3 separate regions of the Homo sapiens genome follow, and all the other regions are linked to region 3. Evidence: fine-mapped expression QTL. A gene starts in region 3. Each other region holds a variant in brackets. All regions are shown on one strand. Distances are from middle to middle. Region 1 overlaps WWC3 (WWC family member 3). Region 2 has its middle 19 kb from the start of CLDN34. Region 3 holds the start of WWC3 (WWC family member 3).

What was found. PIP is the estimated chance that this variant, and not a neighbour inherited with it, causes the effect.
Region 1: its variant is fine-mapped to the expression of WWC3 in thyroid (GTEx, PIP above 0.99). The same link has a PIP of 0.9 or more in tibial artery.
Region 2: its variant is fine-mapped to the expression of WWC3 in whole blood (TOPMed, PIP above 0.99).

The regions. Positions count from the first base shown.
Region 1 is chrX:10,100,514-10,110,525 of GRCh38, reverse strand. WWC3 (WWC family member 3) reads right to left here. Exons shown (of 24, transcript NM_015691.5): 10 at 506-748. Among named protein-coding and RNA genes, the nearest start is that of CLCN4, 51 kb to the left of the region's middle. RefSeq lists enhancers at 1-389, 390-1,107. The variant G/A (reference allele first, on the strand shown) is at 5,159.
Region 2 is chrX:9,981,556-9,992,147 of GRCh38, reverse strand. No RefSeq gene overlaps it. Among named protein-coding and RNA genes, the nearest start is that of CLDN34, 19 kb to the right of the region's middle. The variant G/A (reference allele first, on the strand shown) is at 5,211.
Region 3 is chrX:10,010,086-10,020,677 of GRCh38, reverse strand. WWC3 (WWC family member 3) reads right to left here and starts at 5,424. Exons shown (of 24, transcript NM_015691.5): 1 at 5,005-5,424; 2 at 4,820-5,002. The coding sequence starts at 5,099. RefSeq lists silencers at 5,452-5,511, 5,552-5,721 and enhancers at 5,542-6,425, 6,426-7,309.

The DNA.
Region 1 (10,012 bases), 90 kb before region 3:
TCAGGACAGACGCACGACAGGTGGCCAGCTTCCCAATGCCAGAGAAGAGCAGGCTCTCCTGGCTAGAAATCAAAGTTGGAGAGGAAAGCAGTAGGTGGATACCCACCATGCTCACCACGTCAGGAACAGGGAATTCTTCCCCCATGCAACAGAGCTGCCCGGGCCGGAGCGGGACCACAGCCTGCTCAGGGCACTGTCCCACAAAGGCAGGTGGAAGCACCAAGCACCAACTTCAGGAAGGGTGGGGCGTGGGCGGAGATGGAGGTCACCCATCTTCCCTCACTCCTTCCCCCTTGTCAATCACCTCCTGCTTCGGAGCAGAGGCTCCAGAGACCCAGGGAGCAGAAGGCAGTGCCCCCCACCGCATGCCCCTCCTAGGCCAGGGAACATCCAGGCAGGAGAGGCTCTGAGTGATCATCAGGAACACCCTCCAGCCACACACAAGCCACCCCGTGGAGTTTTTCCAGCAGGCTTTCCGCTGGAGGTCGTGTCCCCGCTGACCCACCTCTCCGTGGCGCCCTGTGCGGAGGTGGCCCGTGCACGCCGCAGCTCCTCCTCTAGGCGCTCCCGCTCCTCCTCCAGCCGGGCCACATCTCCCGCAGAGCGGCGCTGTGCAATGATGAGCTGAAGCTCCTGCAGCAGGGCCTCCTTCTCCTTGATGAGCTGCAGCCGGTCCCTGTCAGCCTCGGCCGTGCTTGGCCAGGACTCATTGTCAAGCCGGGCCAGCTGCTGCTGGATGTTGGCGACTCTGCAAGAGAGACGGGGAGGAAAAAAGGACATCGGCGGACTGAAAACGCCGTCTTCACACCTTCTCCACGTCTCACACTGATTCTATAAACTCCTTTTGCCAAATAAGTAGTGAAATGATTACACCAAGTGACCCTTACACTTAAAAGGATATGGAAACAATGTCCTAAAAAATGGTGCAGAAGTCTTTTCCTGAAGCTCCCTTAGCCTGAGATTCGAGATGAAAATAACCCCATCGTGCCTGTTCCGAAGAACTGACAAAAAGGCCAGCAGCCCTCAACATGCCCATACTCGGCGGCTCAGACTCCTGGTTTCCTACATGAAACTGTCCCAGAGCAGGAGGGAGTCTGCTTGTTTCTTCTGCCCACCCTCATCAGTAGCTAAACAGCATGCTGGACCCCCAGAAGTGCTGCCGGCCTCCCGCCTCCTCAGCTGTGTCTAACCACTGTCAGCCGCTTTAGCAAAATAACAAAGGAGAAATGCACTCATCATCTGGCGTCCTGAAGGAAAGACCTTCGAAGCCCCATGCTCCGCGTCTTCTGGTTCTGTGTGCTCCTTCCTGCACCAGAGCCCCTGGCCATACATGAATTCAAAACACCTTGCGGAGAGCAAGTGGGCACTCGACAAAAGCTGAGTGCATTGAACAGTGAACAAACACGCCTGCAAATATGTGAGAGGAAGAGAGGCAGCCCTGTGAGCATGGATGCTGGTGAGAGATGATCTGGGTGGATGCAAAGCGCAACAATCCTCAAGGTGGAAAAACAGAGGCTCCTATCAGTTTCCATGCCTCGAAATTTCCAAGTGCTTGCTTGGCAAACAGACTGCATTACTTTTTGTGTCATGAGGTGCTGTTGAATGCAGATTAAGTGAAACAGATGTGGCCTGTATTTTTAAAGCATCCTTTAAAAGTAAGAGTAGAATGTTTTAAGCCCTTTAAGTAGGGTTAAAGATCAGGGATATGTTTCTAGGGAGAAACTAGGAATGGCAAACTCAACCTGAACCCCATGCTGTGGAGGACATAGTTGGCATACTCGCCCAAAAACAAAATCCAGAGGCTTCTCTGAGATCACAAAGAGCTGTGAGAACAGGGAAGTGGCAGGCACACGTGGCCCTATATCCTCCGAGGGAGATGCAGGGCAGAGGTGCTCCTGAGACTGCCTCCTCCTGTGCCCGCGGTCCACGGCACTAACCAAGGCTGGCTTCCCACCTGCTGGGTCTAGACCTCAGAAGCCTTCTCTACACTATGAGCCATGTGGATATCCCCAATTGACTAGCATTGCCACACATGTTAAAACCTGCCACCCAGCCTTGTGCCAAGTCAGGCTCCACCTAAACTAGACACGAGCACATGGACTCATGAGGATCGGGCATGACTCCCTCTCTAGCCACCAAACGAATCTGAAAGCCCACAGTTAAGGAAAGAAACGGGTACACAAGTTACAGTTTAAATGTATGCATTTTACTCAAGTCCACTTCAACAAGGTAAAGACACTAGTTGAATGTCAGTAGCTTTATTAGACAAGTTATTTTCTAACTTAAAACTAATGTCTGGAAAACGTGTTGGAAGATGGTGCCAAACCATGTCACCAGAAAAACTAATGACAGAGGCAGCTGAACAGGGCTAGGACTCCAACTGGGCTTAAGCATCCACCTACGTCTAATTAGTGTAATTAAAATTTATGGCAGTCATATATCCAAAGCCCAAGGAAAATACACTCCAAGCAAACCCACAAATAAGTCAGTGCTAAATCAGACATTATACCCAATGACATTTCTGGAACATTCTACAGTAGACCAAGACAAGTTAAGAAATAAATATAAAAGATGAAGAACAATCAGCAAATCTGTGTCCTCATACTTTTTTTCATTTCCATTTATCTGATCCACAGGAAAGTCTGAGCCCAGCTAAATTTTGCCCGACCATTTTATACTCATACTAATTACCATACATATAATATAAACAGAAGTATTTTACAGAACACTCCTTTTGAGTTTTCTGAGCCTTAAATATGAAGAGATCAAGATTCCATTTGAGTCTGCCAGCTCTAGGTTAGCTGCTAGCCTACAAGGATTCAAGCTGTTGAAGGTGGCGGAAGATCCAATTCCAGATAATCACAACCTTTCCAGGAAAATCTCAAGTAATATGCACTGTCAGGAAAAAAAGAATGAGGAAAAAAATGAATTATAGGAGGGAGGAGAGGCAAAGGGTGAGTTTCAAAAGACCTGTCTGCTGCAGGCATAAAGAAACAGAACAGCAGCCCAAATTAAACCATGTCCTGTCACTTCCCACAGCTGGCAGGAAAAATATGCAAGGACAAACGGCAAGGGACGACCTCTCCAGCAGAAACAAAATCTGCAACCCATCTGGAAATGTTTGGGCTGTGCTGAATGCTAGGCAAACATTTCTGTGCCTTCCAATTGTGGGGTTTAATAATAAAATTTCAAAACAATGCAACAATGCAAACAATCTCATCTTCATTTCAGAGCTATATATGAATCTAGAAGAAACTGGAACATATTGAAAAGTTCAATTTCTTTCTTTGTCCCCATGTTCTAGGTGTGAACATTTGGGGCCTGCTTCAGCAAGGTCGAGAGAGGCACATCTGTCTGTCTGTCTGTACTGGAAGCCAAAAGCACTAGGATTCCTTCAACAATCGATTGTTCTTATGTCCCCATGAGACAGACAAGACGGCTTTGCCTTTAAAACCGTATGACTTGTCTACCTTGCCGTGGGCCGGAAACGAGCCATCTGCAGGGAGTATCTTTAGTACGTTAGGTTTACTTGAAGAAACAGACTTCCTGCCTAAGGCTAAACACAGATGTACTGAGTTTCAATGCACCTTCTTCTACATCCACGCCAAACAGCTGATCCACTGGTTGGAGCCTCGCTCCTGTGAGTGCTGTTGTTCCAATTTTGGGTATTAAAGGAAAAACAATTTCCAGAAAGGCTTTTCTTTGAAATATCATTTCAGTGAAATTAAATACATGGAAGTAAAGCAAGGTCATGGTTAAAGTTTGCAAAACAAAATAACTTTCCCGAGTTTTTTGTAAAGAGAACTAATAGCAGCTTAAAATTAGAGAGGATTTTTTTTTTTTTCTGTGAGCCAACTATATTCTTCAGTGATTTTTATTTTTGAGGGGTAATGCATTTTATGGCCTATATAAAATCTCTCCCAAATGCCTTTAAAAGCCTTAAAATATATGCCCCCGTGTCCTGATAGTGAAGAAAGCAAATGTTCAATCAAGCATGCAGGTTTCTTATTTATTATGTGTTTCCCAAATTCTATTCCCTGAGCAGGTCTAATGTAGACAGACATAAAATATGAATCATTTTTCCCTTATGATTTTTGCTCAAACACTTTTCTGTTACAACCCAGGCACCATTAAACCATGCATTTATGCCGCAGAAACTATTTAGACTCTCACAATTCACATGAAAATCTTAAATACGATTTGCATTTTTATAGGAAAACAATGCACTTTCAATAATAAAAAGTTCTGAGGCATATCAAGAATAATCCCTAATTATTTGAATTTATACCAAAAATCTGCAGTCTACAATATCATTTCTCATGGTCCTAAAATCCTGCTGCTTTCTGGAATAGCAAGCAGAACTCTGGACAGCCCACGGTCCTATCCCATGGTGATGAGTCGTGAGGGATCCCAATGGCACATTCCAGGACGCGGGGTCAGCTTAGAGCCTCATACCTTCAGATTGCAATTACGGCTACAGGTTCGATACTCCTTACATTTTCTCTTAGTTTTCTTGTTGTAAATACCCATTTAAATAAAAAGCAAAGGTTAAAGAAAACAGCTGAGATGTAAGTCAGATGGACAATGAAATCACTTCAGCTGATTGAACTAAACCAGCGTCCATTCTACTCAACTCTTTATGTCAGAAGTTTGAGAAGTCTGAATCTAGAATATGTGGGATAAGAAAGGTCTACTAATACACCAATATCTCACCCCGTCCTCAGCTTCCCAGCCCTGACATCTTCTCCCTTTGCAACAGACAGATCTTCAGAGAGCAACTTCATCAAATAAAAAGCAGTGAGTCTACAGGCTTCTCCGTGTTGACCAGAATAGGGAAGACAGAGCCACAGTGGCAAAGATGCTTTTCCTTATTTCTCACAACTGTGCCCCACCCCTAAAACCCAGATAGGAAGTCATTTGAGAAATGAAAAAATCCAAGTGATTGATCAAATTCAACTGGAATCATAACACTACACTGATCCTCGACAACTGATGAACAGCAGGACTGATCCTGGCAACAAAAACTAAGAGGCAGAGAAACTGGATGGACCGAATGTTTTGTTCCTATCTGGACTGAGAGTGTTTCTATGGTAACAGCTACAGTTTGTGCACAGTTCTGGAACAAGCGCCCTTAAGTTAAAAATAAGGAGCCATCTGC[G/A]TCATCGGGATTGCTTCAAGAAGACTTGCTCTTTCAACTTCACTTTTAAAATTTCTGAAATTTTAAAATCAATAGTGTGAATATTCCTATCATTAGGTCTGCCTTGGGAATCCGAAGAGGCGCTCCTGAGGCAAGGTGCAAGCAGTCCTTTTGGTACGCTTCACAGGACCCACAGTTAAAAACACAAAACTAGTCATCATGATAGTGGTCGTTTGGCCAGAGAATTCTCTAGAAATCACATCACCACTCAGAATTATGAGTTCCACTTCCACAAACTTCCTTTAAATCTGAATATATATGAAATCCAGCTGAGTGGGGTGGCTCACACCTGTAATCCCAGTACTTTGGAAGGCTGAGGTGGGTGGATCACTTGAGGTCAGGAGTTCGAGACCAGCCTTGGCCAACATGGTGAAACCCCGTCTCTACTAAAAATACAAAAATTAGCCAGGCATGGTGGCACGTGCCTGTAATCCCAGCTACTCAGGAGGCTGAGACACAAGAATCGCTTAAACCCAGGAGGCAGAGGTTGTAGTGAGTCAAGATCACGCCACTGTACTCCAGCACTCCAGCACTCCAGCACTCCAGCCTGGGTGACAGAGCGAGACCCTGTCTTCAAAAAAAAAAAAAAAAAAAGGAAAGAAAAAAAATCTGAATGTATATATATATATGAAATCCCTCATTGTCCAGAATTCGGCATTTTTGACAATTTCCCACATCTTAAAAATAATCTCAAATATATATGTGCAAGGAAAGACGTCCAAAATGCCTAAGGCATAAAATCCTCCACTGTTCAGAAGTGGCAAAGCACAGGAGGTTCTGCAGAGGATATACATGATGGTTTACTTTGTGTGTCAACTTGCCTGGGCTAAAGCTTGCCCAGATAGCTGGTACAAACATTATCTCTGAGTGTGTCTGGGAAGGAATTTCTGGAAGAGATAAGCATTTGAATCAGTGGACTGAGCAAAGAAGATCCACCCTCACCAATGTGGGTGGGCACCATCCAATTCATTGAGGGACTGAATAGAGCAAAAGGGTGGAGGAAGGGTGAATTCTGTCTGTCTTCTTGAGCTGGGACATCCACCTTCTGCCCTCAGACACCAAAGCTCCTGGTTCTCAGGCCTTCAGACTCTGGGACTTACACTATGACCACCCACCCACCCACCCCACTCCACACCCCACCCCACCCCCAGTTCTCAGGCCTTCAGACTTGGACTGAATGAGACCACTGGCTTTCCTGGGTCTCCGGCTTGCAGATGGTGGGACTTCCTGGCCTCCATAATTGCGTGAGCCAATTCCTATAATAAAATAATCTCTCTCCCTTCTCTTCCCTACCCCTACTCTTGTTGGTTCTGTTTCTCTGCAGAACCTAATACAGTAGGGAAGGTAAGCTTGCAGGGTGAAATGATTTCAGGAATGAGAGCTGGGAGATTAATGTCCAACGGCGAAGTAGCAGAACGAAAAGACGACACTGAATTGTGGCACTAATCTAATAGAAGTTCACCTGGGCAAGAGGAAAGGGCACATGATGTCCCTTAGGCTTGGAATGAGGGAGCAGGGAAGAACGCATTATTCTTTGCTAACACTGCCACTAAGAGCAACGTGTTCTTTTTCATGCTTTGGTGGGTTGATGGGGGTACATGATGCCTTCCTGCTCATGGCACACCACTTCTCCAGGGACGCTCACAGGGATATCAGAGACATTATCTCCCAGCCTGATCAAGGGGGCCGAGGAAGAGACCATGGACGGGACCTCAAAGCCACCATGCTTTGCCTGTGGTACTCAGCACCTGGCTCCTGGAATGTTAATGTTGAGTTCTTGCCAGAGAACCACTTGCCACTGCTCTCTCCCCAAGTCTGTATCGTTCTACTCTCGTGCCTCACTTAGAGGCAGTCCATCAGAACACTCGGAAAACACCATTGTAATGAAATCGCTCATCTGGTGCTGGGGAGACCTGATAACATCAACCCTTCCTAGCCTTCCATCTGTCTACAGGGATGGGGCAGAGGGGAGCCAAGACTATCCTGACAACGCTACAAGGTATGTAAAGTCTAGGGCCTTGCCCAGGCTGCTAAGGGTTATGTGACCTACAGCTGAGTAGTTCACATGGCAGGCATGCACTTACTGGTCAAGCCTTAGCTACAGTAACCAATGTGGAATGACTGGAGGCAGAAACAATCACACCAAGGGGACTGGAGACGTGCACCGCCGCATCTGGGAACCAGAGCCCGGAGGGAGCTGCAATCAATGACTCAGCGAACTGCAATCTCCACTGCGGACTCCACCGACAAGAACACTTCATGGATGTTTCTCAGCAGCTTCAAGTCCACTGAAAACACCAAACTCATGGTCAAAACCAAGATCTGCCTTTCAAATGACCCTCCACTTTACTGTGAGCCTCTGGAAACCCTGTTTAGGGTCATCCTTCTCCTTTAATTCCAGGGAGAGCACCATCTCAGTCACACTTCCCCCAGGCCAGTCCAATTTAAGAAAGGGGATGTGCTGATGGCAACAATTTAGGACTGCCAGCTTGTTATTTTGCCAAGTAAAGACTTTTGGAAAAAACCAATTCACATCAATGATCATCATTAGTTAATTAAGAGAAAGATGTTTTAACAGAAAAAAATATATATGAAAAAATGTATATTAAACACGTATTATAAATATAATATATAAAAATATACAATAAATATGTATTAAATATATATAAAACATATATTAATTATATATATTTATATGTATGTATGTACATATGTATGTATCTCTGAGAATGAGAGGCTTCTTTGACTGGAAAGCAGCGAGTTGGCTTTAGGAACACCTGCCGCTGGCCCTCCTTTTTCCCATGCACTGTGGACTAAGGACACCTCAGGCTGGGCTTGGGAAGCAGAGGCCTGCCTGTCGGCCAACGGTACCACCCCCTTTTCGTTCCTTCACAGCCACTGGGCCCGTGGACATAAGTGTCTTCTCAGGTGTACTTCCTCTTCTTGTTTCCTCCAGCCCCAGCCATCCCCTCTCGGACCTTTTACTACACCCCTCTGGCCAGTCTCGTCCTCGCCAGGCCTTTGATTGGACTTCCTCAGGCTCAGTCCTGGCATCTCCTCTTTTCTCCCTGTGTTCCATCTCCCAAGGTGAGCCCAGCTGCTCGGTGACTTCATCTCTATGCCATCTGGGTTCCTCAAATGGCCCTCCTCCACATACCACCATCTGAATGGCTCACACTTAATCTTTCCAACTCAAACGTCCCAGCATGCCCAGCAATTCTGACCCCTCTTCGGGGCATCGTGGCCCCCATGCCGTGGCCTGCCTCCCTGCTCATGCATCCTCCATTCCAGCCTGGCTGGCCTTTGCTCTGCAATTCCAGGCCAGTCCAGCTGCTGCAGAGTGACACCTTACCCCCACTCCTGACCCCCACTCTTACCTGAGAAAGCCCATCCCCAATGGACGGCGACTGGAATCCCAGCACTCCTTCAGGACCCAACTCCAATGCCATTTTCTCCAACCCCCAAGGAGAGGATTAATTATGGAGTTCAAAGGCTAGTAGCCCTTTTGAATGTCCATGAAGGCCCAGAACTGTTAGTCTAGCTCGGTGTGTTGACGTATCACACCTTGAACATAGTCCTTGAAAGGGAGAGACAGTTCCTTGCCTACCTCAGATCCCTAAAGGCACCCATGTCTTGAAGCCCTTTCCCTTCTCAAGTCAAGGCGAGAGACCCCAAGGCTCACACCTGGATGGAGGTTTGAGGAAGGGACCCAGGAGCAGAGCAGTTGGCCTGGAGCTGACCTGGCCCCGGGACTGCCCTGGCTTGCCCCGTCCCAGGGGCAAAGGCCAAATAGCAAATGCAACCACACGGGACCCTCATTTACTCATTCAATAAATATTCACCAAGTATGTAGCTGCTGGGCTTACAGCAATGACCTACAATCCCTGCACTCATGAGGGTTATTTACATTTTCACAGGGAGAGACAGGCAGTAAGAAAAGTAAACACTGGTTAGGTAATAACATTTGCTCAGCCAATCAGGGGGACCGGGGTGAGGACAGGGTGGTGAGGTTTTATTCAGGATGGTCAAGGAAACCTCTCTTAACAAGGTGATCAAAAGGAGAGGTCATGTGACAATTTGGAGAAAAGCCACCCCATTCCAGACAGAGAAGACAGAACAGGCCAAGGGCACTGTATGAGTTTGCTCTTTTCTGCCCCAAATTACCACAAGCTTAATGGCTTAAAGCAACACCTATTATTCCCTTACAGTTCTAGAGGGCAGAAGTCGAAAATGGGTCTACAGGGCTGCGTTCTTTCTGGAGGTTCCAGGGGAAAATCTGTTTCTTTGCACCTTCCAGCTTCTAGGGGCTGCCCGTGCTCCTTGGCTCCTGGCCCCACACTATTCTGATCTCTGATTCCAACCTCACATCTCCTTCTCTACTGCCGACCGTCCTGTCTCTCTCTTATGAGGACTCTTGTGATGACACTGAGCCCACCTGGATCATATAGGCTCATTTCCCCATCATCTCAGGATCCCTAATTTAATTACATCCACGAAGTCCCTTTTGCCATGGAAAGCCACATCTTCACAGGCTGTGGAGATCAGGATGCAGACACCTTGACGGACCATCATTCTGCCAGCTGCAGATGCTAGGTCAGGAGTTGGCTCGGTGGGACTGAGGCCCGGTGGGAGGCCCGAGGGGCTGCTCAGTGCAGGCGTGCTTGTACATCTGAGGAACATCGAGGGGCCGATTGGCTGGAGCAGGGTGAGTGGGGAGCAGGCTGATGCCTGTGAGTCAGCAGGCGACCTGCTCATGTAGGCCCCTTGTTGTCCATGCATCGTGAAGATTCAGGAGCAAGACAGGAAGAAGCCCCA
Region 2 (10,592 bases), 29 kb after region 3:
AAAACCCACGACTGTTCCGAGTGGCATCTGGAACAGTGAGTCCTTTCCGTTGGATTGGCCCAGATGCATCAGAGGAATCGCTCTCTATGGCGGCTATAGCTTTATGAAATGGACTTCTTCAACAATAAGACTTGAAAGGGGAGATGATCCGTGGAGCCATGGGCTGCAGAATGCATGTTGTGCTCGCAGGCCTGAAAACAATGTGAATCTCCCTGGAGCTCTCCCTCAGAGCTCTTGGGTGACCAGGTGCCTTGTCAATGGGTAGTAGCATTTGAAAAGGAATCTTTTTTCTGAGCAGTACTTCTCAACAGTGGGCTTAAAACACTCGGTAAACCAGTAAACCATGCTCTAGACAGACGTGCTGTCATCCGGGCTTTGTTCCATTTCTAGAGCACAGGCAGAGTAGATTTAGCATCATTCTTAAGGGCCTTAGGATTTTTGGAACGGCAAATGAGTGTCGGCTTCAATTTAAAGTCACCAGCTGCATTAGCCCCTGACAAGAGGCAGCCTGTCCTTTGAAGCTGTGAAGCCTCTCCAGGTATGAAAGTCCTAGTAGCATCTTCTTCCAATATAAGCCCATTCGTCTACATTGAAAATGTGTTGTTGAGTGTGGCCACCTTCATCCGTGGTCTCAGCTAGGTCTTCTGGAGCACTTGCTGCTGCACCCTGCACTTTTATGTTATGGAGACGGCTTCTTTCCTTAAGCTTCATGAACTAGCCTCTGCTAGCTTCAAACTTCTTCAGTAGTTTCCTACTATATACACCTACTATGTACTCGCAATCATTGTTTATGTATTATTTACTTATTTATTTTTTGAGACAGTCTTGCTCTGTCACCCCCGCCAGAGTGCAATGGCACAATCTCGGCTCACTGCAACCTCTGCCTCCCGGGTTCAAGTGATTCTCCTGACTCAGCCTCCCGAGTAGCTGGGATTACAGGTGCCTGCCACCATGCCCGCCTAATTTTTGAATTTTTAGTAGAGACGGGGTTTCACCATGTTGGCCAGGCTGGTCTCGAACTTCTGGCCTAAGGTGATCTGCCCACCTCGGCCTCCCAAAGTGTTGGGATTACAGGCATGAGCCACCGTGCCCGGCCACAAACTTTTTTTTTTTTAAATTTTAAAAAGCAAACAATTGTATGGGGTGGCACATTTTGCTTTAAAAACATGTCATTTCCTGTTTCCAGCACACATCTGTGAACATGAAGATAATTTCAGAGTGTTAATCTTGGTTATACCTGAGTAGTGCCACAACAGGTGATTTAGAGTTTTATCCTATTCTGTATACCAACTTTGCAATAAATATATAGTAATTCTTTCATAAAAATTAACAATATAATGAATAATTTGCTTGTGCAAGTAACATGTCAAAATAAACAACTGAGCAATGAACAGCAATAGTGTTCAATTTCAGGACAAATACTGTACTCGGAAGGGCTTATGCTGCCACCTTGCAGAAGAATGCTTTATGAATGTAGAGTAATTTATAAAATCCAGATGTGTTCATTATTTATAACTTTTATTAAAAATTCATACATGCTCAGTATAGAACAAAGAATCCATAAAAGTACAAAGAAAGAAAAAATTACCCATAATTTCACTTTACCATTGACTCAAGATTCTGAGTTCCTAGGTAGGAGAGATACACAAATCAGGGTATAATAGTTCTCTCAGTATAAAGTCAGCTTTTCTGCTATTTAGGTGCTAATCTTGGACATGGTTCTTATACTTGATTCTTGCTTTGTTTACCTAAAATCAAGTTTCTTCATTTATACAAATATCTAGTAGTTTGACCCTTTGACCCTGTTCAGATATTCAGATATCTTGGTTGCTTTAATTTCTTTTCTTTTTTTTTTTTTTTTTTTTTTGAGACAGAGTTTTGCTCTCGTTGCCCAGGCTAGAGTGCAATGGCTCCATCTCAGGCTCACCGCAACCTCCACCTCCTGGGTTCAAGCAATTCTTCTGCCTCAGCCTCCCAAGTAGCTGGGATTACAGGCACCCATCACCACATCCGGCTAATTTTGTAATTTTAGTAGAAATGGGGTTTCTCCATGTTGCTCAGGCTGGTCTCGAACTCCCGGCCTCAGGTGATCCACTTGCCTCGGCCTCCCAAAGTGCTGGGATTACAGGCGAGAGCCACCACGCCTGGCCAGTTCTTTTCTTTTCTATTAAAAATAAATGTTGCCATGAACATCTCACACACACACACACACATACACACACACACACACACACACCCACAGACATACCTTGGATATATTGCAGGTTCAGTTCCAGACCACCAAAATAATGCAAATATCTCTATAACCTGAGTCGCATATTTTTTTTGGTTTTCCAATGCATATAAACATTATGTTTACTCTATATTGTAGTCTTCAGTGTGCAATAGTATTATGCCTTAAAAAAATGTAGTATCCTAAATTAAAATTACTATATTGCAGGCCGGGCGAGGTGGCTCATGCCTGTGATCCCGCCACTTTGGGAGGCCTAGGCGGGAGGATTGCTTGAGCTCAGGAATTCAAGACCAGCCTGGACAACATGGCAATACCCCATCTCTACAAAAAATACAAAAATTAGCCAGGCGTGGTGGTGCACACCTGTAGTCCCAACTATTCTGGAGGCTGAGGTGGGAGGATCGCTTGCGCCCGGGTGGTTGAGGCTTCAGTGAGCCGTGATAGTGCCACTGCACTCCAGGAGTCTGGGCGAGAGTGAGACCTAGTCTCAAAAAACAAAAAACACTTTATTGCTAAAAAATGCTAAGGATCATGTGAGCATTTAGTGAGTTGTAATCATTTTGCTGGTGGAGGGTCTTGCCTTTATGTCGCTGGCTGCTGACTGATCAGGGTGGTGATTGCTGAAGGCTGGGTTGGCTATGGCAATTTCTTAAAATAACACAGCAAGGAAGTTTGCTGCATCAATTGGCTCTACCTTTCACAAAAGATTTCTCTGTAGCATGCGATGCTTTTTGATAGCATTTTACTCACATTAGAACTTCTTTCAAAAGTAGAGTCAATCTTTTCAAGCCCTGTTACTGGTTTATCAACTAGGTTGACATAATATTCTAATCCTTTGTGCAAGTAACATGTCAAAATAAACACCTAGTCAATTAACAGCAGTAATGTTCAATGTCAGACCAAATACTGTGTTCTGAGACAATTTTTGCTATTTTGACGTGCTTATGCTGTCACCTGGTGGAGAAATGGAAGAATCCCACTAATTTATCAACTAAGTTTATGGAATATTCTAATCTTTTGTTGTCATTTCAATAATGTTCACAACATCTTCACCAGGAGGAGATTGTGTCTTAAGAAACTACTTTCTTTGCTCATCCATAAGAAGCAACTCCTGATCCAGGGACAATGGCTCACACCTGTAATTCCAACACTTTGGGAGGCCAAGGCAGGAAGGTCTCTTAAGCAGGAGTTCGAGACCAGCATGGACAACAAAGTGAGACCCCCATCTCTGCAAAAAAAAAAATAAACTATTAGCCGGGCATGGTGGCACATGACTGTAGTCTCAGCTACTCGGGAGGCTGAGGCTATAGTGAGCCGAGATCACACCACTGCACTCCAGCCTGGGTGACAGAGTGAGACCCTGTTTAAAAAAATTAAAATAAAAGTAGTACTTGGATATTGTTTTTAAAAAGAAAGAAAAAGCTCAATCAATGCATGGAGTATGAACAAGTAAATAAAAATCACCTATAATTTCATCATAGTTAACATTTTAGCCCATTTCCACCCCATCTTTATCCAGCTCATATTTTTCAAGCTGGAATCTTCTTTTATATGCATTTTGGTTTTTGTTGTTCTTTGCTCTGTATTTTTCCCATTTTATTATGAACCTTTTTTTTTTTTGAGACAGGGTCTCACTTTTTCACTCAGGCTGGAGTGAAGTGGCGTGATCATAGCTCCTTGCAGCCGTTAACTCCGGGGCTCAATAGACCCTCCTCCCTCAGCTTCTTGAGTATTTGGGACCACAGGCATGCAACACCACATCCAACTAATTTTTGTAAAAATTTTTAGTAGAAACAAGGTCTCCTTATGTTGCCCAGGCTGGTCTTGAACTCCTGGGCTCCATCGATCCTCCCGCCTCAGCCTCCCAAAGTGTTGGGATTACAGGCGTGAGCCACTGTGTCCAGCCAAAAACTTTCCCATATTAAACAAGGTTGAAAAAATTTTAGCGAACAACTCAAATACCACCCAGATTCTCTCATTAACATTCTACTGTATTTTCCTTTTTCTTTTTATTCATTTTTCTGCTCTGATAAGAGGCAGATTACTATAGTCTTTTTCATGTACCTATTCATTTGTTCATCCCTCTATCCATCCATCAATCCATCTTATTCTTTCATACATTTCATAGTAAATTGCAGACATCAGTACACATCCCCCTAAGTTTTCAGCAAGTATGCCACTAACTAGAGATTGATATGTGTTTACACTGGTTTTCTTTGGATATAAACTTTACACTTAATAAACTGTAACAATCTTAATACATGCAGGTTTTGCTCATTTTTTGCATTTGCCGATTTTCATAAACATTTTGCTTAGCATCACATTAAGCCAACAAATTAATCTCAGAAGGTGGAACAACTTTGCAAAATTTAATTTCCCCATCTGGGACTGGGGACATGTCTCCATGGCTTCTTTTGGCTCTTACTAAGGTTGAGCAGTTTGCAACATACAGGGTCTTGCACATTTCATATTAAGCTTATTGCTAGATATTTGGGAGTTTATTGCTTTTTTGTGTGAAAGTACTCTGTTTCAATTCTAATTTCAAACTGGCTCATTGTGTAGGAACACGAAAAGATTGTTGATGTTTGTGTATTTAGTATCCAGCTATATAATTGAACTTTCTGTTGTAGTGTAATAACTTTTCTTGGACTTTTTTTAGGTATAGGGTCAACTTAGCTGAACAAAGATTCACACACCCTTCTAGGATAATTATACCTCTTTTCTCTGTCTCCTGACTTACAGCACCCTGGCTAGAACTTCCAGAACAATCTAGCTGGGCGTGGTGGTGTACGCCTGTAATCCCAGCTATTCAGGAGGCTGAGGCAGGAGAATCGCTTGAACCTGGGAGGCAGAGGCTGCAGTGAGCCAAGATCACGCCATTGCATTCTAGCCTGGGCAACAGACTGAGACTCCGTCTCAAAAAAAAAAAAAAAAAAAAAAAAAAAAGGAACTTCCAGAGCAATCTTACGTAACTTTG[G/A]TAATGACAAGTTTTCAAGTCTGGTTCCCTATTTTCAGGGAATTCTTCTAATGTAGTGATTCACAAGTGTGGGAAGACCAGGGTCAGTGAAGGGGGTGCTTTGCTGGGGGGAGGGTGGATTTGAACAAGGCCCCACAGGCGATCCTGAAATGGCCCCCACCACTCCAAGGTTAGAAAAAACTGTACTAATCCTTCATCGTTAAAGATATATTTAAGTGTTCGTTTAAGATAGACAGCATTGAATGAAGTGTCTTTTGTTTTTTTAGTTTACAAAGGGTGCTTATCGGAAATTAATGTGGAACTCTCTCGCTCTTTCTCTCTTTATATATATATATATATATACCAGTTTTACTGAGGTATAATCCACATACTGTACAACTCGCCTGTGTAAAGCATACAATGCAGTGGTTTTTAGTACATTCACAAGGTTGTGCGACCATTGTCACCATCAATTTCAGAACATTTTTGTCCCTCCTAAAACGACCCCTGTGCCCATGAGCAGTCACTCCCCATTCCCCTCTTCCCAGCCCCTGCCCACCATTCATCTACTTTCTGTTTCTATGAATTTCTCTACTCTGGACATTTCATATAAATGGAATTGTACAATTTGTGGCCTTTTGTGTCTGACTTTTTTCACTCGACATCATGTTTTCAAGGTTCATCCACATCGTGTTTGCAAGGTAGTGGTAGGAAAACAAAAGCTGTTTCCCGATTTCTTCCCACCAAGTTCAGCTGTTTCAATGATCCTATGACGAAGATTGTGCCACAAGGAATAGCCTTGTGGATGTGACAGTTACCATCCACGGGCCCACTGTGTCCTAGTGGAACTCCATTCAGAGCCTGGGTTTGATGACCTTATGGGATTTCTTCTGGACCTTTCAGTGAGGACTCTATCACTACACGGTCCGTCGCATCTGGCTTACTCACAGCTACCCAAACCCCACCTCGGCTGTAGTAGCCAGGAAGTTGAAGGCCTGAAGTGCATTTACCAGCCAAGGTTTCAGCATCTCGTCACACACTGCCTCAGTAGCTTACGAACAACATGAGAGGCCTCCGTGAGCACGGGAAGTTGCCCAACGGAGAAGTGCAGGTGTCCCCTCCGGTCACCGCATTTGCTTGTCCTCTGTTTCCCAGTAACCCCCACATCCCGGCACTGCTGCCCCTCCATCTCTCTTCCTCTCTCCCCACGGCTCTGCCATGCCCCTGATTTGGGCCATCACCACCTCTCCTTGGAATTGCTGTCCCACCTGTCACCAGCCTCTGCCTCCAGCTTGGCAAGGCTGCCTGACAAGAATGACCGCCAAGGCCTCTGGTGCCTGATCCAATCTTGCCCACCTCTTGAGGCCAGATTCCTTCCAGGTTAATGGGGGCAGAAAGAGAACTGTGAGCTCCCGTCTGTGGGGATCTCACTCATGCACAGGTTGAGAGCCAGAGTGGCATTCATGAGCAGAAACTTCTTTTCCTGGTGTAGGTCTGTGAACAATCCCTCAGGGCACTTTCATCAACATGTCATCGTCACCAGAATCCATAGTTGACATTAGGGTTCATCCTTGGTGTTGTACATTCTATGGATTTGGACAAACGTACAATGATATGTGTTCATCATTATGGTAGCATACAGATAGTTTCACTGCCCTAAAAATCCTCTGCAATCCCCTCTTCATCTTTCCTTCTTCTCTAGCCCCTGGAAACCACCGATTGTTTTACTGTCTCCATAGTTTTGCCGTTTCCAGAGGGTCACACTGTTGAACTCTTACCGTCCGTAGCCTTTCAGATGGGCTTCTTTCACTGGGAAATATGCATTTAGGGTTCCTCCATGTCTTGTCATGGCTTGATAGCTCATTTCTTTTTGTGCTGAAAAATATCCAATTGTCTTAATGTATCACATTGTTTATCCACTCATCTACCAAAGGACATCTTTGTTACTTCCAAGTTTTGGCAATTATGAGTAAAGCTGCTATAATCATCTGTGCGCAGGTTTTTCTGTGGACGTGAATTCTCAGCTCATTTGGATAAAAACCAAGGAACACAATTGTGGGATCATAAGGGTCTGTCTCTTCTAATTCAAAATGATCCCAATCTCTGGTTTTAATGGAAGGTGTGGGTAATTAATTAGATGTTTTCTCTGAAGGTAGGTTTAGGAATGATGGAACCAGATACAGATACCAAACCCTGGAAGAGACAATACTAAAGAGAATTTAAAATAATTAAAAGTGAAGAAATACTCTTTTTAAAAACTTGATCAGGCCAGGCGCAGTGGCTCATGCCTGTAATCCCAGCACTTTGGGAGGCCGAGGCAGGCGGATCACCTGAGGTCAGAAGTTCAAGACCAGCCTGGCCAACATGGCTGAACCCAATCTCTATTAAAAATACAAAAAATAGCCGGGTGTGGTGGTGTGTGCCTGTAATCCAAGCTATTCGGGAGGCTGAGGCAGGGAGAGTTGCTTGAACCCAGGAGGCAGAGATTGCAGTGAGCCGAGATGGCACCACTGCAATCCAGCCTGGGTGACAGAGCGAGACTCTGTCTCAAAGAAAAAAAGAAAAGGAAAAAAAAAAACAAACCGTGATAGATGACTCTAATGTCTAATAACTCCGTATCCCAAACTGTTTACCTTTTGGAAATAAAATTGCTAAAATGCATGCCTTTTATAACCAGCAAGAATTCTCCCAAGCCTGCATACCTGTCTCAATCTGCTGGTTCTCCCACCTGGCTCTGTATTGGCAGCAGGTTTTCTATTGGGCCTATTTTGATGGTAGGTATTCATCTGCGTTAGTTAAGGGTGAACAATAGCAGCCCAGTTACCAAGTAACCCGATTTAATAAGCAGCTGCATTCTGGTTGGTTGACAAAGGACTGAACTAATGGTTGCAGACCAGCTGGCACGAACTGCGGCGAATCCGTCAAGATGTCAATCTAACGAGCCAGTCCTGTTGTGACCGAGAGACAGTTTCCCCAGAATAACTTGGGCCTGGAGAGCAGGATGAAAAGCAGGGCGATCTGGCTGATTCAAAATGTGGGGCTCTTGGCCTCTGTGGCTGGCCGCGTCTGTTCCCTGGCATGCCTCAGTGGCCTGCCAAGTGCATGCCTCAGTGGCCTGTGTGTGCATGCCTCAGTGGCCGACTTTCTCCTCGGGTTTACTCGAGAGTGAGAAGTACATGCTGGGCCTTTGGGAAGCATGTGTGACTCGAGACACAGGTGCCAGTGTGTGCCAGCCCAAAGAACCTGGCTGCCAAACTCCAGGTGGCTCGTGTCCTCACGTGCGTGGCCGGGGCTGTGGGTTCTCTCGGGCTTGTGGCGGTCATCCTGGGACTGATGTGGCTGAGATGCTGGGGCCGAGGAGGAAGTTCTTGGGAGAGAAGTGTCAACATTGCTGGGGGAGCTCTGGTTTTTCTGGCCGGACTCACTACTTGAGCGTCCGTGTCCTACGTTGCCCATATTACCGTGTGGAGGTTCTAAAGCTCAGAGTTCCCACCCAACAAGCCCCGGGGGGATGCGGCAATGCCATGTCCAGCGGCTGGATGGGTGGATTTCTCCTTTCCACTGGAGGCCTTCTTTTGATCACCACACAGCTTTATGCCAACACACTGGCTGCAAAACCAACACCTTTTCCTTCATACCCGGACTTTTCAAGAAAAGTGACTTTTGGTAAAGTAGAATTTGTTTAAAAATGGACCAATCAGAAAGGCAACAGTGAAAGTGGAGAAACCATCTCATTTTGGTTTTCTGCTGAGAAATGATGGAAGCTTGGTTTGCTAGGTGAAGTGGATGGGTCCAAGCTACCTGACGGAGAGAAAACCAACAGTATTTGCTAATAGATTTGACGATGGGGGGAGGGTACAGGAAAGTATATCAGATCTGTGGAACCACCTGTTTCTGAAACTACTACTTGGACAGCCTGATTTATTTTTTAAGCTAGTTTGAGTTGGTTTTCTCTAACTTTCCATTTAAATTTCGTTAAAGGATACAAAATGACAGCTAGATTGGAGAAATAAATTCTAGTGTTCTATACCAACTGTTAGATGACTAGAGTTAAAAATAATAAATAGTTTTGAATAGCTGAATTCAAGAGACTGAGGCAGGAGGATTACATGCGCCCAGGAATTTGAGGCTGCTATGAATTGTGATTGTGCCACAGCACTCAGCCTGGGCGACAGTGAGACACTGTCTCTAAAATAAATAAATAAATAAAATAATTAGAAAATGAAATTAAAATTAGAAATATATAGCTAAAAGGAGGATATTGAATGTTTTCAACACAAAGAAATGATAAATGTTTGAGATTACGGATACACTACTCACCCTGATCTGATTGCTGTACATTCTATGTATTGACATATCACTATGCACCCCAAGAATATGTACAATTATTATTTGTCAATTAAAAAATAAAATAGAAATAAAAATGGACCACTAACCTCAAACTTTTTTTTTTTTTTTTTTTTTTGAGATGGGGTCTCGCTCTGTTGCCCAGGCTGGAGTGCGGTGGTGCAATCTCGGCTCACTGCAAGCTCTGCCTCCTGGGTTCTTGCCATTCTCCTGCCTCAGCCTCCTGAGTAGCTGGGACTACAGGTGCCCGCCACCACGCCCAGCTTATTTTTTGTATTTCTAGTAGAGACGGGGTTTCACCATGTTAGCCAGGATGGTCTTGATCTCCTGACCTCATGATCTGCCCGCCTTGGCCTCCCAAAGTGCTGGGATTACAGGTGTGAGCCACCACGCCCGGCCACCTCAAGCTTTTTTAAGAGTGTTTCCAGCCAGGTGCAGTGGCTCACGCCTGTAATCCCAGCACTTTGGGAGGCTGAGGCAGGAGGATCACTTTAGCCCAGCAGTTCAGGACCAGCCTGCGCAACAAAGGGAAACCCTGTCTCTACAAAAAACCAAAAAATCAGCCAGCTGTGGTGGTGTACGCTGTAGCCCGAGCTACTCCAGAGGCTGAGGTGGGAGGATGCTTGGGCCCTCAAGGTAGAGGGTGCAGTGAGCTATTACTGTGCCACTGCACTCCAGCTTGGGCAACAAAGTGAGACCTTGTTATTGCAGGAATTAAGGGACAGTAGAGACCAATGGGTGGGACAGGAGGATTTATTAGGTGCGCACCGGCCCAGCAGATTAACATCCAAAGGCTGAGCCCCGAACAAAGACAGGGCTTCACTTTTATACATGCATCCAGAAGGGGGTTGGCCAGTTTGATAGCACAAAACCTGTAGGGCAGGCAAGCAAGCTTACAGAAGCAGAACAAAGGCAGTTTGTTAAACAGTGACAGGCCTTGCAACTTAAAACATATCTTGTGACCTTGCCGTGCCACACAGAAGGGAAAAACAGGAACTTACAAAACTTGCAAAAATAATTACGAGAACAGAACAAGGAACAAAAAAATTGTTTTTC
Region 3 (10,592 bases):
AGGGATAACTGAACTCAGTAGAATTTAACTTTGCTTTTATTCCATCAGATTTGTTTTATTGAATTTATGGGAAAGATAGACACCATTAGCAAAAGGATCTGGAATGGAAGTCAAGAAGCCTACCGTAGGCTCACCAGATGACCATGAACATGTTCCTGACCCATGGGCTCCTGAAGTAGAACCTAACTAGAGATGGTGATACGTGTTATTTCCACTTCCCAAATCAGAGTGAAAGGAAGGAGAAGGAAACTTGGAGATTTCCAAACATCCAGGAGCTATTTTTGGAAATGAATTACTTTTCCTTTCACTTTTCTTTAAAAAATAAATAAATGAATAAATAAATAAACAAATAAATGGAAGGAAAGGAAAAGACCAAAAAATGTTAGACCAAAAAATGAGGATTGATGATCTAAATGGAAGCAAGAGCCGCTTCTTCCAGGGACTGACCCCTTACAGCCTTAAAAACAAGATGCTCCCCCATGTTCATACAAACACTATCTATAACCTTAAAAAAAGAAAAAGGGAGAAATCATTACCTGTTTATCAGAAAGCTCAACCAGGACAGTTTATATAGTCCAAAAATAGACTCTGTGGGATGAATATAGTAAACCTCCTATTAGTTAATACTGAATAACTAAATAAAGGTTCCAAGAAGGTAGCAATGATGTTATTTGGCTGTTAAATGGGGATCCAACCTAGCAAATTCCAGAGCTATGGATTGTTTTCCTCTTAAAGCAAAAGCATCTTCAGAAGACTTTTAAGATACCACAGAATTCCTCCATGAAGCACAGGTCAAATCCCATCTGGTGAACAAATGGGTCCCCAAAAGCTTATGCCATGACATGATCTTGCTCTTCCGCCATCCGCATGATTATTTATACTTTGATCTCAAATATGGTATCGTCCACCATACTTAAGCTGCCCAGAGCTGGCATTTCCAGTACCGTACAACTCCACCTGAGCTACAGGAAATGGAACATGAGGTTTCAAACACTCAGTCCATCTATAGGATAATACCCAAATAACCCTGCAAGACACACACGTAAACACAACTGTCAAAGACAGTGAATCTTTACAAAGGGGGCAAAAATGTTCTTCCCATATTTTCTGCCCAATGGTAAATACCTTTTCATAAGGTGGTCAAGTTATTCTGAGTTAATATATTCAGTTAAGATATTAGTGTGCCACTAATGTAAACCACACAAGACTCATGTAAGGAAACTACCAGCCATAGAAATAAGTTAACTTTGTAGTTTGTTTTTTCGTTTCTTTTTTTTTTTGGTGTGGGGTTTTGTTTCGTTTTTTGAGACAAGGTCTCACTCTGTCACCCAGGCTGGAGTGCAGTGGCATGACCACGGCTCACTGCAGCCTGGATCTCCCCAGCTCAAGCAATCCTCCCATTTCAGCCTCCTGAGTAGCTGGGACTATAGGCGCACGCTACCCCGCCCACGTAATTATTTTATTTGTTTGTAGAGACAGAGTCTCCCTATGTTGCCCAGGTTCGTCTCGAACTCCTGGACTCAAGCAATCTTGCCCCCTGGGCCTCCCAAAGTGCTGGGATTACAGGCATGAACCACCACGCCTGGCCTAACTTTGTAGTTTTTAACCAAGTTCTTGGGTATGATTCCCAGTAAACTAACTATGAAAATTATATGTACAGTATCAATCTATAGAAATAGTGAATTTAAAGTGAAGGTAGGTTTTTTCGTTTGTTTTTTGAGACAGAGTCTCTCTCTGTCACCCAGGCTGAAGTGCAGTGGCGCGATCTCGGCTCACTGCAACCTCCACCTCCAGGGTTCAAGTGATTCTGCTGCCTCAGCCTCCCAAGTAGCTAAGACTACAGGCGCACACCACTACGTCCGGCTAATTTTTGTGTTTTTAGTAGAGACAGGGTTTCACCACGTTGGCCAGGCTGGTCTTGAACTGACCTCAAGTGATCCACCCACCTCAGCCTCCCAAAGTGCTGGGATTACAGGCATGAGCAACCACGCCCAGCCAACCAAAGGTAGGCTTATAATCAAACTAAAAAATTGTTTTTAAAATATTGAGATTGTGTATACATCTGTAGCCACATCCGTAAAGACGTCTCCTTGTATCTTCTTTGTTGTAACTTTAAAAAGCAGTTACAATAATTTCACCAACAGGCTCTGAGCCGGCACTATCAAATGTTAAACACAACACTGAATGGAATTACTATAAAACTCAAGAAGAGATTTTGTTTACAATCCTTGGACCATATTTTATGCTATACAGTTTTTACTAAAGTTTATATGAAATTATGTTTAAAGTCAACAACAATTTTCACTTAACCTACTACATTCATTTATTCCACCACAATTTCATTTTCTTAAAGAGAAAAAAAAAGCTATTATGTATTTGCCTTTCTCCTGTCAGGTCTCTATGTGGAAGCTGTTTGGTGAAAGTCCTCGTATTTCTTGAATACCATTTTCCTGTGTGACTCAAAAGCAACTCAAAAAGGGTTTTAACTGTCAGATGCGCATGGAGAAAACACTGCCCTCTGACATGCAGTTCTTCCCATATAATAAAAGTTAATTACAACTTTAAAGGGTAACCCGCCACCTATAAAACTCGGCCAGGTTCTGTTTTGAAAGAGGAAGAAGAATGACTATTACAGCCTTCAGCCGACTCCACTTAAATGTTTGTGGCTTGCTGAACATTCCATACATATTTCGGGCAAGGTATTATGGGAGCTGAAGTTCAAGCTGTCCCCTGCTGAATTTTCACTCACTATAAAAACAACGTCTCATAAAAGTACACACGTTTTTACTTTACAAAAAAAAGGTAAAATATCCACTTTTGTTGACTCAATTGACAATTTTAGCATCAGAACGGAGACTTTTTAAAAACCTTTAAGTGATTGTCTGAAAAGTAACAAATCGATTTCTGGAAAAAAGGAATATAGGAAATGTGTCTGAAATACATGGAAAACAAGATTCTCCAAGCTGATTTCTGTATGGTCCATTCACGTTTGTCACAGGTTACACCATTAAAAAGAAAATCCTCACATTGATATCTTTCAGCATGAATCTCCACTCCAATATAACCACAACTGTTTTATATTACCCTTGGAAAGTGAGCCTTAGCCTTTTCTAAGCAAAACACTATTTTAATTGGTTCATTTTCCAGTTGTTTGGGTTTTTAACATACATATGGTATAAAAGGGCACTGCATTCCAAGCAGTTCTACCAATTCCAGAACCATCCAAGGGTTGATCAAACAGCTGGGGCTCTAGCCTTTGGTTAAAATTATAACATGATCTCACCTGATTTTCAAAATAACTAGGCATCTTTTTAACCCATAAAATTGTACTAGGATTGATATAGGTTTCTGAGCCCAGAGGTTTGCAATGTTCAGCGAGAATGTTAGGGAATCACGATCTTTTTGTTTTGCTTTCTTTTGTTTTCCCCTGCTTGAACTCAGAGAAATCTTCAAACAATTCAGCAGCTTCTCTCCTCAAAAGTTTATTTTCAGACGCCAGTGCCATGCAGGCCGCCTTCCCTGTGCAGGTAGGAGGAAGCAGGCACAATGTCACCACACTGGGCCTTTGCAAGTCTTCAAATCACTGGGAAGCCTGTGGTGTTTCCTTTTTGGCACTCAGGCCCTGGAAGGAGAGTTGCTCTAGAGAGGACAAGACATCAGATAACCTGTGGAAACACTTGATGTCCACAGAAATCCCAATTCCACACAAAATACATCTCTGTAAAAGCAGTTGAACAATCGAAACCCGTAGACAATCGAGCAAAAAGTTAAGGAAGAGCTTCGTTACATGGAATTAATTAAATGAAATCTGATAGTGCTTTTACAAGAATCAGTTTTTACTTGATTGGGTTTTTATACGTGAATAAGACAGCTTTGTACCCCATGCATATCTTTCACAAAAAGGAAACTTAAAATACAATTCTTGTTTTTCGTTTATTCCAAAAGCATATGGGACTAATCATATTGCATTCTGGCTGCAGTACAGAAGGCTATTTCAAACAGTTTTAACTCACGAGTTTTAAGGCGCTAAAGAGCAACTAGAGTTTGGGAACAGACTTCTCCAACTCCAAAAGGGTTGGGAATCCCTCAAGGGCCCGTCTGACATCAGGTTTTGGATGGAAACCAGCCTGAACCCGCCAGACAGGGAACCCGCACCCCAAAGCTGGGGCGCACGTTTGTGATCCAAGGTGACAGCTCATCTCGCCACCGCGGGGCTGGGGACACCTGCAGAACCAGGGCCGGGGCAGTGGGCCGCAGACGCCCGGGACCGGGATGGGCGAGGCTGCCGCAGAGAAAGGAAAAGAGGGCCATCTGTCAGCCCCAGGAGAGGAAATTCCAGGAGCCCAGTTCCCAGGCGCCGGACAGCGGGTGACGTGAGGGAACCGAATGAGAGGGTCCGCCCAGCGGCGGGGGACCTGTAGGCGGCCGGCCTCGGCGCTCAGAGGGCTCGAGGCCTGGAGAAGGGGCACCTCCATTCTTGGTCAGAGCCCTGGGAGTCGGGGTATTGGGAGGGTGGATCCTCTCCCGGACCCCCGGAACCAAAGATCTTCACCCAGCCCCGAGGGCCTCCTGGTGTCTCCGATCCTCTCCCTGGGCCCAAGGGATGGGGGCGCCTCGATCGTAGCCTGGACCGGAGCACTCCAGGGAGTCCCCTGGTTCCGGGGATGGAGGCGCTCCGAGCTCTGCCCGGGCCCGGGGGCTCTCGGCGGCGGCCCCGCGCTGGGCGGGGCGTGTCCCCAGCGCATCCGCGGTGGCGCCGGCCGGCGGCCCGGGTCGTAGCGCCCGCGCCGGGTCTGGCGCCCCCAGCCGGCCCGCTTACCGGTCGCGGGGGTCGATCCACGACGTCTGGCGCGTGTTGTGGTCAATGTAAAAGACGCGACCGTCGTAGTCTCGCGCCTCCTCCCAGCCGGCGGGCAGCGGCAGCTCGGCGCTCTCCCGGGCCCGCGGCGGCGGCGCGGAAGGAGCTGGGGGCGTGGGGACCGCGGCGGGGGGCGCCGGCGGCGCGGTTCCCGCTGGGGCTGCGCAGAAGGCGGCGGCTCCCGCGGGGCCTCGCGCGGCTGTCCCCGCCGTCGCCGCCGGCCGCCGCTCAGCCAAGGCATGACGGCGCGGGCCCCGCCGCCGCCCGGCCGCCCCGCGCGCGCCGCCTCCTCCGCCAGCACTAAGGCCCGGCGCCCGGGGCGCGGGGGCGGCCGCGGGGAGCCGCCCGCCGCTCCTGGCGCATCCTCCGCCCGGCGCCCGTGCACCGGCGTCCGCCCGCCCGCCCTAGCAAGCCGCTGCCCGCGCCGCCCACTCCGTTCAGGTAGCCCGGGTGGCCGCCGCGCGCGAAGTCACAGCCCGGGAGCCGCCGCCGCCGCCGCCGCCGCTGCCGGCCGCCCCTCCGTTCCCGCGGCGCGCCCGGCCATCTTCGTTCCTCGGCGCGGCCCGGGCGAGCAGGGGCAGGGCGTTCGCAGGCCCCGCCTCCGGCCGTCCCGCCCCGTTCTCACCCAGGCCCCGCGGCTCCTCCCACGCCGGCGGCTCCACCCACGCCGGCTGCTCCTCCCGAATCTCCCACGGAGGCTCCCGCTCCTCCCGCCGCCTCTGCTTTTCCACCCACTCCCGCTGCTCCGCCTCCCCCGGCCCCGCGTCCTCCGCGCCTCTCCGTCGCCGGCTGCTCCGCCCCCAGTCTCCCTCGGGGTCCTCCTCGGCGCTCGGCTCCTCGACCCCACCCCCACCCCTCCGCTTGCTCCTCCCCCTCCGCCGTCCTCCCTCTCCGCGCGCTCCTCGCTCTCTCCCTCCCGCTCCGCCACCTTCCTCCGGCCTCGGGAAACCGCATGGAGGCCAGGATGGGCGCCGCCGCGTCAGTCCGCCCCCGGGCCCCCGCGTAGAGGAAGGCGGGCGGGGAGGACGACGCCCTACCCGGACTGCGGGCGCGGCCTGCCTGGGGTGACTCCTCGGGCGCAAACAATTCCCGAGAGAGCGGGCAGTGCCCTCCCTTCACCCGCTCCCGGGCTCTGGCTGTCTGGAGACCCTCTGCGCACTTGGCGGGAGGCTGCGCCCTCGGTCTCCCACACAACCCGTCTGGTCCCGCGAAGGTGGGAAAAGCCCCTGAAGGCGGGGCCGAGGGAGCTGAGGAGCTGGGGGAGCCCGCGGCCGGTCCTCTCGGGCGGCGCAGGGAGGACGCCTCTGGAAGCGGGCAGCTGGGCAGGTGGCCACTTTGCGTCCCCGCCAGGACAGCCCTAGAAGGGCTAACCTGGGGGCCCACACTAGGCGGGAGTTCCTTGACCTTCCCTGAGCGCTTCATCCGGTTTGTGGGGTCTGATCGTTTGAGCGGAGACCCAAGTAGACCATTGCTGGGGAGGAAGCCGGGTCAACTCCTAAAACTTTCAGCCTAGACGGGAACTTCTGTTTCACTGGCTCCCAGCTGGGGAAGCTGAAGCTCCAGAGTTGGGGCTGTGTCTTGCTCTAAATCTCCCACCTACTTCGTGCCCCAGACCCACAGCCGCAACACGTTATGCCAGGAAATGCAGGACAGTATCAGGGAGATTTTTAAACAGTTACAGTGATACAAAAATATCTGGTAGAGCCTGATTGAAATCCAGATACACAGGGGAAGAGACTGGAGGAAAATGTCCTGAAATGCTCACAAGAGTTTGCATTCCTTTGGCGGGATTTTTAAAAATGATTTGCCTTCCAATTTTTTGTAAAATGGTAATATTACTTTTATGAGGGGAAAGGTTGTTTTAAAAAAGAAGAATGGGCCGGGCGCGGTGGCTCACGCTTGTAATCCTAGCACTTTGGGAGGCCCAGGCGGGCGGATCACGAGGTCAGGAGTTCGAGACGAGCCTGGCCAGCATGGTGAAATCCCCGTCTCTACTAAAAATACAAAAATTAGCCGGGCATGGTGGCGCACGCCTGTAATCCCAGCTACTCGGGAGGCTGAGGCAGGAGAACTGCTTGAACCTGGGAGGTTGCAGTGAGCTGAGATCGCGCCACTGCACTCCAGCCTGGACGACAGAGTGAGACTCCATCTCAACAACAACAAAAAAAAAATTAGAAGAATGTGGGGCCGGGCTCGGTGGCTCACACCTTTAATCCCAACACTTTGGGAGGCTGAGGTGGGAGGATCACTTGAGCCAGGGAGGTCGAGGCTGCAGTGAGCCGTGTTTGCACGATTGCACTCCAGGCTGGGCGATGGAACAGAGACCCTGTCTCAAAAAAAAAAAAAAAAAAAAAAAAAGAAGAAGAAGAAGAAGAAGAATGTGAAGTTGTGAAGGTATAGCGACGTCCAAAAAACTATCCAAGGAAGGTCTTTCCTCTCCCTCCTCCTACTACAACACAGAAACTTTCTTGCTCCCCAAGTATCTATCTACCCCTACCTGAATGTTCTATGTGAGAAATTCCACCGCATGAGTCCTTTTAAACATGTGTGATTATTACATGTCCAAGGGAAAGAGTGGGAGGGTCAAAAAAGCACATATTTTGTGATGTCGCATGTGCCAGGGAATGCCCCAAGTGCTGAGTGTCCCTGCTCTGACATCTTCCCTTCCGATTGGCATGATTTATCGCCAGTGGGGCTGCCACTGCCTTCTTACCTTACCACCCAACATGGCCGTTCTGAAGCTGCATTTCCACCCTCCCTGTCACCTGGTCCTTTTAGAATCTCACAAATCTGGACACAAATCTATCACTCGAAAGTACTTTGAATGGGGCTGGGGCGTATTGGAGTGAAACCGACTTCTGCAGAGAGAGAGTGGAAAGAGGAGAACACATACACCACACATCAAAGGACTCAGAAGGAAAGGCAAGATGAAAAAAGCATCAGGTAGAGCAAGGAGTGGGGGAAACTGCATCCAATTAGGAGCTCAAAGAGGCCAGCGCCGAGGAGTCTTCACTGAAGGTGAAAGATTTCTACCCGTTCAGGCGGGCAGCAAATAGTGGACCTCCCACGCGCAGACACTGTGCTGCGTGTAGGCATGCTGCAGGGAAGAGGATAGTCTGTGCTTCAGCTTGCACTCCCTTGGGGACTAAACATAGAAATAGGCCCTTGTAATACAATTGTCACTTGTCAACAAATGAAGCCAGGGTGCCAACCTCAATTTGGGGACTCGTGGGAGGCTTTGTGAGACCAAAGGGAAGGTGCCTCAGATGAGGAAACTGAGGCTCAGATGTTCAGATTCCCAAGTTCTGAGCTCTTGCCCCTTGGCACATGGAGCTGCTGTCATGAAATTGTTTACTTGTATAGCAGATGCTGGGGCGGGCTCCCTTCTTTTGGAGTATTGTGAAGATGACCCTTCATTAACACAGATGTCTGAGAGATTACACCCAGCCCCAGGAGCTGACCGTCCAGTTTCCTTGCCTTGGTGACACAAACTCGAATGCCCTTGACACCCCAGAGCTCCCCATGGGATCCCCCATGGGATCAGGCTGAGGCTGTACTTCTCTGGAAATCATAGCTTTGCCAGCTCCTCCCCTGCCCGGTCCCGCCTCCCTTACTCGTGTAAGCATGCCTCCAATCAGCCGCTCACTCGAGAACCCCCGTCTCAGGCACCCTTTCTAAAGAGCCTGACCTAAGATAGGCTCCTGCACACTTACTGTCATCTAAGCACTTAGCAAATACGAGCTCATTTAATCACCAAAACATCTAGAGGCATTCCTACTTTCATTTGCACATTAATAGAGGCAAAAGAAGTGTGACACAGCATGCCAGAGAAGAGAGATTGGAGACCCTCACTGAGAAAACTTCATCCACATGCCCAGCCACTGCCTCTGGACACTCTCTGCCTGAGAGAACAGAAGTGGGGCTATTGCATTTGTCTTCCTAAAAGGAGCTGAACCAGAGAGGAAGAGGCCAGCGCTTGGGGTGACCAAGACCTCTTTATTACACCATTAGTCCTTTTCCACTTGTGTGCAATGTTAGCCCCAGGCGTTTGCTGATGGTCCCTAAAGACTTGTGAATGGAGATGGAAAGGAAGAGAAATTGGTAGGGGTGTGAAGGGACTCTTGACTTCCCAGCTTTGCCATAAATTGGGATCGATCTCTCTCTCTCTCTCTCTCTCTCTCTGTCTCTCTCTCTCTTTGTGTGTGTGTGTGTGCGTGTGTGTGCGTGTGTGTGTGTGTGAATTGTTAGAATAAGGCCTGTCTTTCTTACAGTCAAGTGGGGCTTTCCACATCGGACTAAAAACCACACACACACACAAAACACTGCAGGGCGAAGGAGTCTTGAGTCCTAACTGAATGCACAATTCTACATTCTTTATTTCCTCCGCATTAAAACCACAGCCGGGCCAACAGCAAAAGCACGAACATTGTGTAGTGCTCCATCCTCCCACCAAGACTTCACATGGAAAAGCAGCTCAGGAAAAATCCACTTAGTCTCTGGGGAAAGGAGATGCAAATGCTTTTGTTCTCCTCCCAGACCCTCTGGGAAATCCCCTTTCTGAAGCTGTTACAATGCACTGATCTCTAACTTGCAGAATACTTTCCTTAAAATGATGGTTAAGGAGTAACTCCAACAAGGACAGAGTCTGAAGATTTTTACTATCAGATTCTGCCTTCTCTCCCCAGCCCTCGCCTAAAGGATAAGCTTTATTTGTAAAAAGGAAAGTGCAAAATTGGATCCATACACATTCAGTACTTGATAAGCGTCTAGAAAAGGAAAATCTGTAAAGGCTACAATCATCAAGTGTAAAATGAGAAAAATAAACACCGCCAGAGAAGTCTTGCCTACCTTGTATAAACAATCAAGTGTTCTAGGAAGCGACACATTGGGTAATTCTACACATTGTGCTAAGAGGAAAACGGAAATGGGCCGGATTAGGTCTGAAGAAGAAATGGTTCATTGTTTGGCATTCTTTAAATGCTAGAATAATTACTCAATTATGGGTGTTTCTCATATATTTAAATAATGCAAATCCACAAGCACTGGAGGAGATTAGATGTTGTTCTTGTTCATTCCTGTCTTGCTGGTTTAGGGGCATCAAAGGAAGGGTAAATTGCAAAGATCCCTAAGGGGACCCTCCCCAGGCTCAGGAGTTGGAATGGGGACAGGGTGAGGTTATTTCTTGGTGTTTTATTTCATGGCTTTATGTAAAGACGTAAACTTTAGACACTTATTTGACTTGTATTAAAAAAAGTCACTGTTTAGATTTCGTGTGTGGACGGGGGGCACTTTTCTCAACTGGGACTTCCTTGATTTGTGTAGATGCGTCCATTTTGAAAATTCAGGTTTTTCTCATGTCCTAATCTTCCACTCCAAAGACAGGCAGGGTATTCCCAAAGCGTCCACTGTGTGGATAAACCTGCCAGTCTGCGTTTGGTTCATTTTAGCGCTTAATTCCCGTGTCTGGATGCGCATCACAAAACAACATCATCCTTGGAATCAGTGAATGGCTGTCATGCTTTAAGCACGTTGCATTTGTGCCTGGGTGATTAAAATTCAGATTTTTTAAAAATGTAGACCAATTTCTCTCCCAAACTTAGAAAACTCAGAGCCACTCACTTCCTTCGTCTCCAGGTCTCCTCTTCCAGCCTTACACTTTTACTTATTTTCCTCCCCTTCCCATGGGTTCTGTTCCACAAAATGTGAAGGGGCCAATTCAAAATGTATTCTAAGC